2 linked regions of the Homo sapiens genome follow. The protein of the gene in region 1 interacts with the protein of each later gene in a pairwise test. Each region holds a gene or a part of one and is shown in the gene's direction. Other genes may lie near its edges.

Evidence for each region.
Region 2: the proteins of PITPNM1 (region 1) and TFCP2 interact in binary tests that used the Homo sapiens proteins (3 or more experiments, as listed by UniProt).

The regions. Positions count from the first base shown.
Region 1 is NC_000011.10:67,503,253-67,507,159, reverse strand, and holds the start of PITPNM1 (membrane-associated phosphatidylinositol transfer protein 1), read left to right. Parts: upstream 1-1,796; 5' UTR 1,797-1,972; intron 1,973-1,984; exon of another isoform or gene 1,985-2,366; intron 2,367-2,563; exon of another isoform or gene 2,564-2,638; intron 2,639-2,938; 5' UTR 2,939-2,979; coding exon 2,980-3,057; intron 3,058-3,283; exon of another isoform or gene 3,284-3,423; intron 3,424-3,907. Other genes in the region: CDK2AP2 (cyclin-dependent kinase 2-associated protein 2), read left to right, coding at 148-215. UniProt on the Homo sapiens protein: Catalyzes the transfer of phosphatidylinositol (PI) between membranes. Binds PI, phosphatidylcholine (PC) and phosphatidic acid (PA) with the binding affinity order of PI > PA > PC. Regulates RHOA activity, and plays a role in cytoskeleton remodeling.
Region 2 is NC_000012.12:51,114,050-51,117,856, reverse strand, and holds part of TFCP2 (alpha-globin transcription factor CP2), read left to right. Parts: intron 1-109; coding exon 110-186; intron 187-1,436; coding exon 1,437-1,542; intron 1,543-3,807.

The DNA.
Region 1 (3,907 bases):
TTAACCAAACCTCTAATTTCATCTAGCCGTCATTAGATTTGAATTTCTTTTGCCGAAAGTGGAAAGGGAGTGGGGAGGCAGGGGTCCTCCTCTGGAGGGCAGTGGGTGGGGCTGTGGAGGGTTGCTGAGACCCCACCCCACCCCCAGGTATCATCCATGCCCGGGCCCTAGTCAGAGAGTGCCTGGCAGAGACAGAGCGGAACGCCCGCACGTAACAGGAAGCGCCTCGGCCTCAGCGTCTGGACCTATCCGGCCACTGCAGAGCACCCGCTTCTCCCTGGCCTTCATCCCGAGTTGCACTAACCATCCTGGGCTTCCTGTCCTGTGTCCCTTGGTGGGTCCCCTCCAGGAACCAAGGAGTGGCCCTCCAGGTGGCAGCACTAAGGACACCCCCCCACAACAAGAGTTAGCAGCGAGGTCCCCATGAGTCCCACCCATGACCTGCCGACAGTGTTGCCCACCGGAACTTTTGTGGCCCCTACCGCTCAGCCCTTCCCAGCACTTCTCCCACTTTGTCCCGAGCCTCCTTCTCCCCCAGCAGGGGCACAGGCCTGGCACCTCCCTGCCTTGTGTCCTGAGCCATAGTGACTCTTTTATCTGTGTGTCTTTTGCTAAATATGCCCTTTTTATATTAATAAAAGATGATTTGGAGTTGTGCTCTCAGCTCTGAGCCTTTCTGGGTCTGGTTCTTCAGCTAAGCCTGGGTGGGCCAGGCAGAGACAGGGGAAGAGGAGACTATGGATGGGGAGGGTGTGATTAAATGAGGTTTGACTTGCCTCTGTAGGCCATCAGCCTTTGGTGGGACCTGGGCCCTCTCCGCCCCAGCCGTGGCGCTGAGAGCCCTGGGCCTTCCTGTGGTGCCACCAGGGGGCAGCACAGGGCCTGGCTGCTTCCACAGCCCTTGGCGCTGTGGGCAGCCTGGGCCTGGAGGGCGCTTCCTCTGGATTGGCGGTGATGCCTGGCAGCATGGAAATGCCAGTTCACGTAAGCCACTCCCTCACACGCCCTAATGCCCTGACAACACCCCAGCCTCTGAATCAGCCCTGAAGGTCTCTGACTTCTCAGAGAGAAAGGGCACTGCTGCTTCCAGCACTTGGCCTCAGTGTCAAGGGGAGGGGCTGGCGGGGTGCTGCCGTCACTGCCCCAGCACCTTGTAGCAGGCTGGGTGGGATCCCATGAACCCAGCCTTGGGGTGCCTCGTGAGGCCTTTGCCCAGACTCCGGGTGGCTGGGTGACCGGACTTGTGGACCCGGAAGGCAGAGGTGGGGGAGGCTTTGTGGCACCATGCAGGGGCTAGCCCAGCCACTCACAGTGACAGCCCGTTTCTGCCTGGGCGTGTAGCTGGGTGACCATAGAGGCCTGGGGCCCTGGAGCCGAGCCCAGCCCTAGGTGGAGGCATGTCAGAGCCACCAGCTTCTGGCTAGACTGGTGGGGAGGCATTTCCTCAACCCTGGGTCCCAAATCTAAGGACTGCAGAGAGTGAGAAGAGGAGAGTGGGCCTGGGACCCCCCATATCAAACCACCCTGTGACTGCACACAGGAGGGCTGGGCTAGGGTGGAGATAGGAACTAAGAGTCTTTGGGGACCCCAATCAGCACAGAGGGACTAGGAAGAGCCAGAATTTAGGCAATGGCCTTTTTCCCACTGCCCGGGGGAAGGAAGGCAGGGGCCTCCCTCCCTGCCTCCTCCGCTGCAGGCGGGGCTGCCCGGACCCCGCCGGGGTGGGGAGGGCCAGCCGGGCCCAGGAAGGGGGCGGGGCGGCCGCAGTGACGCGGCGGGCGTCGGGGAGGGACTGCAGGGGCGCCGGCGGGCGGATCGAGAGGAAGGTCGGGGCCATGGGCCGGCACTGCGCCTCGGGAGGGTCCGGCCACCGCTGGAACCCGAGGCCGGGGCTGGGGGCGCTCCGGGCTCCGACCCACGGGCCGGCCGGCCCTGCCCGGGCTGGGTGAGGGGCGCCCGCCTCAAGCTAGAGGTGAGCCGGGGCGTCGGCAGGCGGGCCAAGAGCGCGGCAGGGGACCGGGACGCCGGCGAGCAGAGGGAAGTGGGGACAACGGGGCCTCTCGCTTGCTCGCGGGGTGCGAGTGGGGGATGGAGGGGTGCCTGCAGCGGAACCTCGGTGCCAGTCTGGGGCGCAGGTGGACGGAGCGGGTCTCCAGGGCCATGGCCCGTGGGATACCAAGTGGAGCCACTCTGGCCTCAGCCTGAGGAGGGCTCACCCCCTGGGAAGAGGACGGAGTGGCTGCCTAGGCGCGTGGAGAGCCGGCGAGGGCCAGGGGTCCAGGAAGGATGCTGGGAGGGGGAGGTCGAGGACCCGGCTGCCCAAGAAGGCAGATCTGGAGGGCGGAGGAGATTACCGGTCCCGGAAGGTAGGTTCGGGTGCAGGGCGTGGGGAACCCTGGCAGAGATGCTGGGCGCACTGGGCCACTCCGCGCAGAGACACTCGGGGAACAAAGCTCTAGGTGGACGTCCGAGAGTGGGGGACTTGGGACCCCGCCGACTCCGGGAAGGGGATGCAAGGGGCGGGTCCCCGAGGGGCCGGTCGCGGAAGGCGGGCCCGGAAGGAGGGGCCCCGGGGCTTCGGGGGCGCGCCCAGAGGGATGCCGTTTCCCGGGGTTAGGACGCGGTCGCAGCGGGAGAGGTGAGGTGGCCCTCCCGCCCGCCGGCCGGAGCCTGGCGCTCCGGGGGGCCCGCGTCAGCGCGCGGTTGCCATGGCGACGGGCGGGCGGGGGGCGGGGGCTGCGCGGAAAAGAGGTCAGCGCTCAGCCTCGCTGCGGCTCCCGGCCCCGGCGGCGCGGGCGGCGGTGCTAGGCTCGCCTCTGCCTCCCTCGTGGCGGGCCCGGACATGGGGTCCCGTGGCCTGAGTCCCTCGGCCGGCGCGCAGGGCTCGGGGCCGCGCGCAGCCTCCCCGCACTGACTGTCGCGCCGTGCCCTGCGCCAGGAGGAGCGGAGGCCGCGCGCGGCCCGCCGAGCGCCTTCAGGATGCTCATCAAGGAATACCACATTCTGCTGCCCATGAGCCTGGACGAGTACCAGGTGGCCCAGCTCTACATGATCCAGGTGAGGGCGGCGGGGAGAGGGCACCCGGGCAAGGGGTGGAGCCCTGCCGACCCCGCCAGCCCTGCCCCGGGGCTGGGACCGGCTGGGAGCCCGGAGGAGGCAAGAGAGGCCCCCCTTCAGATGTGGGAATGGGGAAGGACTGTGGGAAGAGGGGCAGGAGGGCCGAGTGGTGCTTCCCATCCGCTAAGTGCCCAGCCCTCCTCTGATCTCCTGTAATCCTCCTCAGGATCTGTAATCCCATCGGGGAAGGAAAAAGCGCCCAGGAGGCGGCAAGAATGAGGAGGGGGGCCTCCGCGGCAGAGGAAGGCGGGAGGGGGTCTGGAGAAGTGGAGGGTCCTGGCCATCCCTGGAGGTCAGGGAGATGTGGTGAGGACCAGGTGTCAAACCTGGAGCAGGGACAGGGCAGCAAGGATGGGAGGGCGAGGAGGCTCTGGTGTAGGGCAGTGAGAAGAGTGGGCCAGGGCAGGCCCTCAGCAGTGGCCGGGTTGGTGCGGGGCCTGGGGGAGTCTGCTCCAGATCTGTCCCCAGCACAGCAGGACCAGAATCTCATAAAGCAAGAGGGCCCGGACCCCGCCTCGGGCTTGAAAGGGCCATCTGAGCCCCGGAGCAATAGAAGGCAGGATCTGGGGGCTCTCAAGCTCTGAGGGGTGTGGCGGAGCTGGGATTGGGAGGCGGCCAGGGCCTCCCAGAGAGGGAGGGGGCCAGGGTCAGGGCCTCTGAGAGCTGGAGGCCCCTTTTCCTCTCCTAGTCCCTTCTTCCTTGCCAGCCACCCCGGCCTCCTTGCCACCTGCCAGCACATCCAGTATGCTCCCACCTTGGGGCTGCACTGGCTTCCCCCGGCCTTGAGCAC
Region 2 (3,807 bases), on another chromosome or scaffold:
TAATAATATTATTATACTGTTGTATATTCAACCAACTGAATTTTATTCTTTCCGAATCTAGCAAAGTTAATTTGTGGTGAATATAATATGTAATTACTTTTTCTTCTAGGACAGTCTTATGAAATTCGAATGCTAGACAATAGGAAACTTGGAGAACTTCCAGAAATTAATGGCAAATTGGTGAAGGTAAAACGAATAAATCATTCTTCTGTACAATATTTTTTACTAATCCTTTTGGGATTTTAAATTTTGTTGTTGTTGTTAATGTTCTTTTGCTTCCAATGGCTTAATGGTATCTCTTGCCTGCAGTAATTTGTTGGCAGAGTAGTAAGCTGATGTGTTATTTCTTTGGGGTCAGAGTAAGCCCCAGTATTCACATGAATTTTTCAGAGCTGCAGAAATAGAACGCTTACCACTCCCTGTCCAGGGTAATCACCCCTGGCTCAGTGAAGTTCTTTTGGGTGGAGTAAAGTAACCTCCTTGAGATCTTTAGAGAAGCCTCAGTGTCTTTTTTGATACTTAGTCTTATAGCAAGGAAAACAGAAGCTACTTTGATGAAGAGCAGTTCTCTTAGTCTAGATTAACAGTTAGGATTTTGATAATTCACAGCACAGTTGAAACAGAGGAGTTTTGTCAAAAGGTGGTGGGAGGAATTAATAGGCACTTCTACAAAGTAAGAGTAACAAAAGGAAAGTTGATGGAAACAGGCTCTACCTACCCTCAGTGTTTACAGGTTGTATGGTGGGTTAGCAAGCGGGGGAGTTGGTGAGTTTTTCATATACATCTGAAGAGCTAAGCCAGATAGGCCGTGGTATAACAGAAGAGGTGTGCAGAAACGCTTCAGACAGGAGTACTTTATTCCTAGTTACCATCGGACTGAAGTTTAAGCCAAGTTTTAAATATGGTACCAGTTAACTATAAAGATTCTATCTGAGAAATTGGCTGGACCCGGTGGCTCACGCCTATAGTCCCAGCACTTTGAGAGGCTGAGGCGGGCGGGTCGCCTGAGGTTGGGAGTTTGAGACCAGCCTGACCAACATGGAGAAACCCTGTCTCTACAAAAAATACAAAATTAGTCAGGCGTGGTAGCACATGCCTGTAATCCCAGCTACTCAGGAGGCTGAGGCAGGAGAATTCCTTGAACCCGGGAGGTGGAGGTTGCGGTGAGCCGAGATCACACCATTGCACTCCAACCTGGGCAACAAGAGCAAAATCTGTTTCAAAAAAAAAAAAAAAGATTATATCTGAGAAATTATAAAATTTTATCCTGAAATAGCACTTAGTATGGTATGGGTTTTAGAGTGAAACAGATCTTAAGAAAAATAATTTTAGATTGCGTTTAGAAACAAACTGGCAGTGAATCCTGCTAGTTTTTCTTTGTCAGCACTGATTTTCAAGAGGTCTTGTTATCATCTGATTTTGTTGTATCCTTTTAGAGTATATTCCGTGTGGTGTTCCATGACAGAAGGCTTCAGTACACTGAGCATCAGCAGCTAGAGGGCTGGAGGTGGAACCGACCTGGAGACAGAATTCTTGACATAGGTGAGTTAAGAGAATCTATTGCCTAGGAAATGCCTTTAGCTATGGACCCAGAGTTGGTTTTCTTTATTTGACATTTACCTTGATTCATATGCTTGAGAGGCTCAATTAGTATAAACCTTGAAATTATTTACTAAGCATAAAAAATTTTAAGTAATACAAGTTAAAATGATATCAAAATTGAAGTTGGAAGTGTAAACACTTTAGTTCCATAGCAACTATAGGTTGATTTTGTTGTTTTTTAAGTTGTGGTAAAATATACATTACATAAAAGTTATCATTTTAACCATTTTTAAGTGGATAGTTCAGTAACATTAGGTACATTCACATTATTGTGTAACCATCACTATCATCCATCTCCAGAACTTTTCTCATCTGCAAAACCAGAAGTCTGTACCTGTTAAACAACAACTCCCCATTCTCCCTTCTTCACAGCCCCTGGTAACCACTATTCTCCTTTCTGTCTCTATGAATTGGACTACTAAGTACTGCATAAATGAAATCATACAGTATTTGTCCTTTTGTGACTGGCATTTTTCACTTAGCATAATGTTTTCAAGGTTCATGGTATAGCATACATTAGCATTTCCTTCCCATGCAAGGCTGAATAATACTCCATTGTGTGTATATATCACACTTTGTTTATCCATTCATCCCATGATAGGCACTTAATTTGATTCCATTTCCTGGCTATTGTGAATAATGCTGCTATGAACATGGATGTACAAATATGTGTTTGAGTCTCTGCTTTTAATTCTTTTGGATACATATCCAGAAATGGAATTGCTGGGTCATATGGTAACTCTATCTTAGATTTTTTTTAGAAACCACTATATTGTTTTCCACAGTGACTACACATTTTACATTTCTACCAGCGGTACTCAAAGGTTCCAATTTCGGCCGGGCGCGATGGCTCACGCCTGTAATCCCAAAACTTTGGGAGGCCAAGGTGGGCAGAACATGAGGTCAGGAAATCGAGACCATCCTGGCTAACATGGTGAAACCCCGTCTCCACTCAAAATACAAAGAAATTAGCTGGGCGTGGTGGCGGGCGCCTGTAGTCCCAGCTACCCAGGAGGCTGAGGCAGGAGAATGGTGTGAACCCGGGAGGCGGAGCTTGCAGTGAGCCAAGACCACGCCACTGCACTCCAGCCTGGGTGACAGAGCGAGACTCTCTCAAAAAAAAAAAAAAAAAAAAGGTTCCAATTTCTCCAATCCTTGTCAACACTTGTTGCTTTCCTTTTTTTTTTTTTCCTGAGATGGAGTTTCGCTCTTGTTGCCCAGGCTGGAGTGCAATGGCGCGATATCAACTCACCACAACCTCTCCCTCCCAGGTTCAAGTGATTCTCCTGCCTCAGCCTCCAAGTAGCTGGGATTACAGGCATGCACCACCACACCTAGCTAATTTTTGTATTTTTGGTAGAGACGGGGTTTCACCATGTTGGCCAGGGTAGTCTCAATCTCTTGACCTCTTGATCTGCCCGCCTCGGCCTCCCAAAGTGCTGGGATTACAAGCGTGAGCCACCACACCTGGCCTGTTGCTTTCTATTTTTTGATAATATCCATCCTGATGGTTGTGAAGTAGTATCTCATTGTGGTTTTGATTTGCATTTCCCTGGTGATAAGTGATGTCAAGCATCTTTGCATGTGCTTATTGGCCATTTATATATTTTCTTTCTTTCTTTATTTTTATTTATTTATTTATTTATTTTTGAGATGGAGTCTCCCTCTGTCGCCCAGGCTGGAGTGCAGTGGCATGATCTTGGCTTACTACAACTTCCACCTCCCGGGTTCAAGCGATTTTCCTGCCTCAGCCTCCTGAGTAGCTGGGATTACAGGTGCCCGCCACCACACCCAGCTAATTTTTGTGTTTTAGTAGAGACAGGGTTTTGCCATGTTGGCCAGGCTGGTCTTGAACTCCTGACCTCAGGTGATCCACCCGCCTTGGCCTCCCAAAGCGCTGGGATTACAGGTGTGAGCCAAGGCTCCCGGCCCATCATTTATATATTTTCTTTGGAGAAATGTCTGTTCAAGTCTTTTGCCCACTATCGAATTGGATTGTTTTGTTTTTTTTGTTATTGAGTTGAAAGAATTTTTAAAATATTCTGGATATTAACCCCATAGCAGATATATCACATGCAAATCTTTTCTGTTATTGTGTGGGTTGCTTTTTTACTGTGTTGATACTATCCTTTGATGCACTAAAGTTTTACATTGAGGTGGTCCAATTTATCTAATTTTTTTTAATTCCCTGTGCTTTTGGTGCCA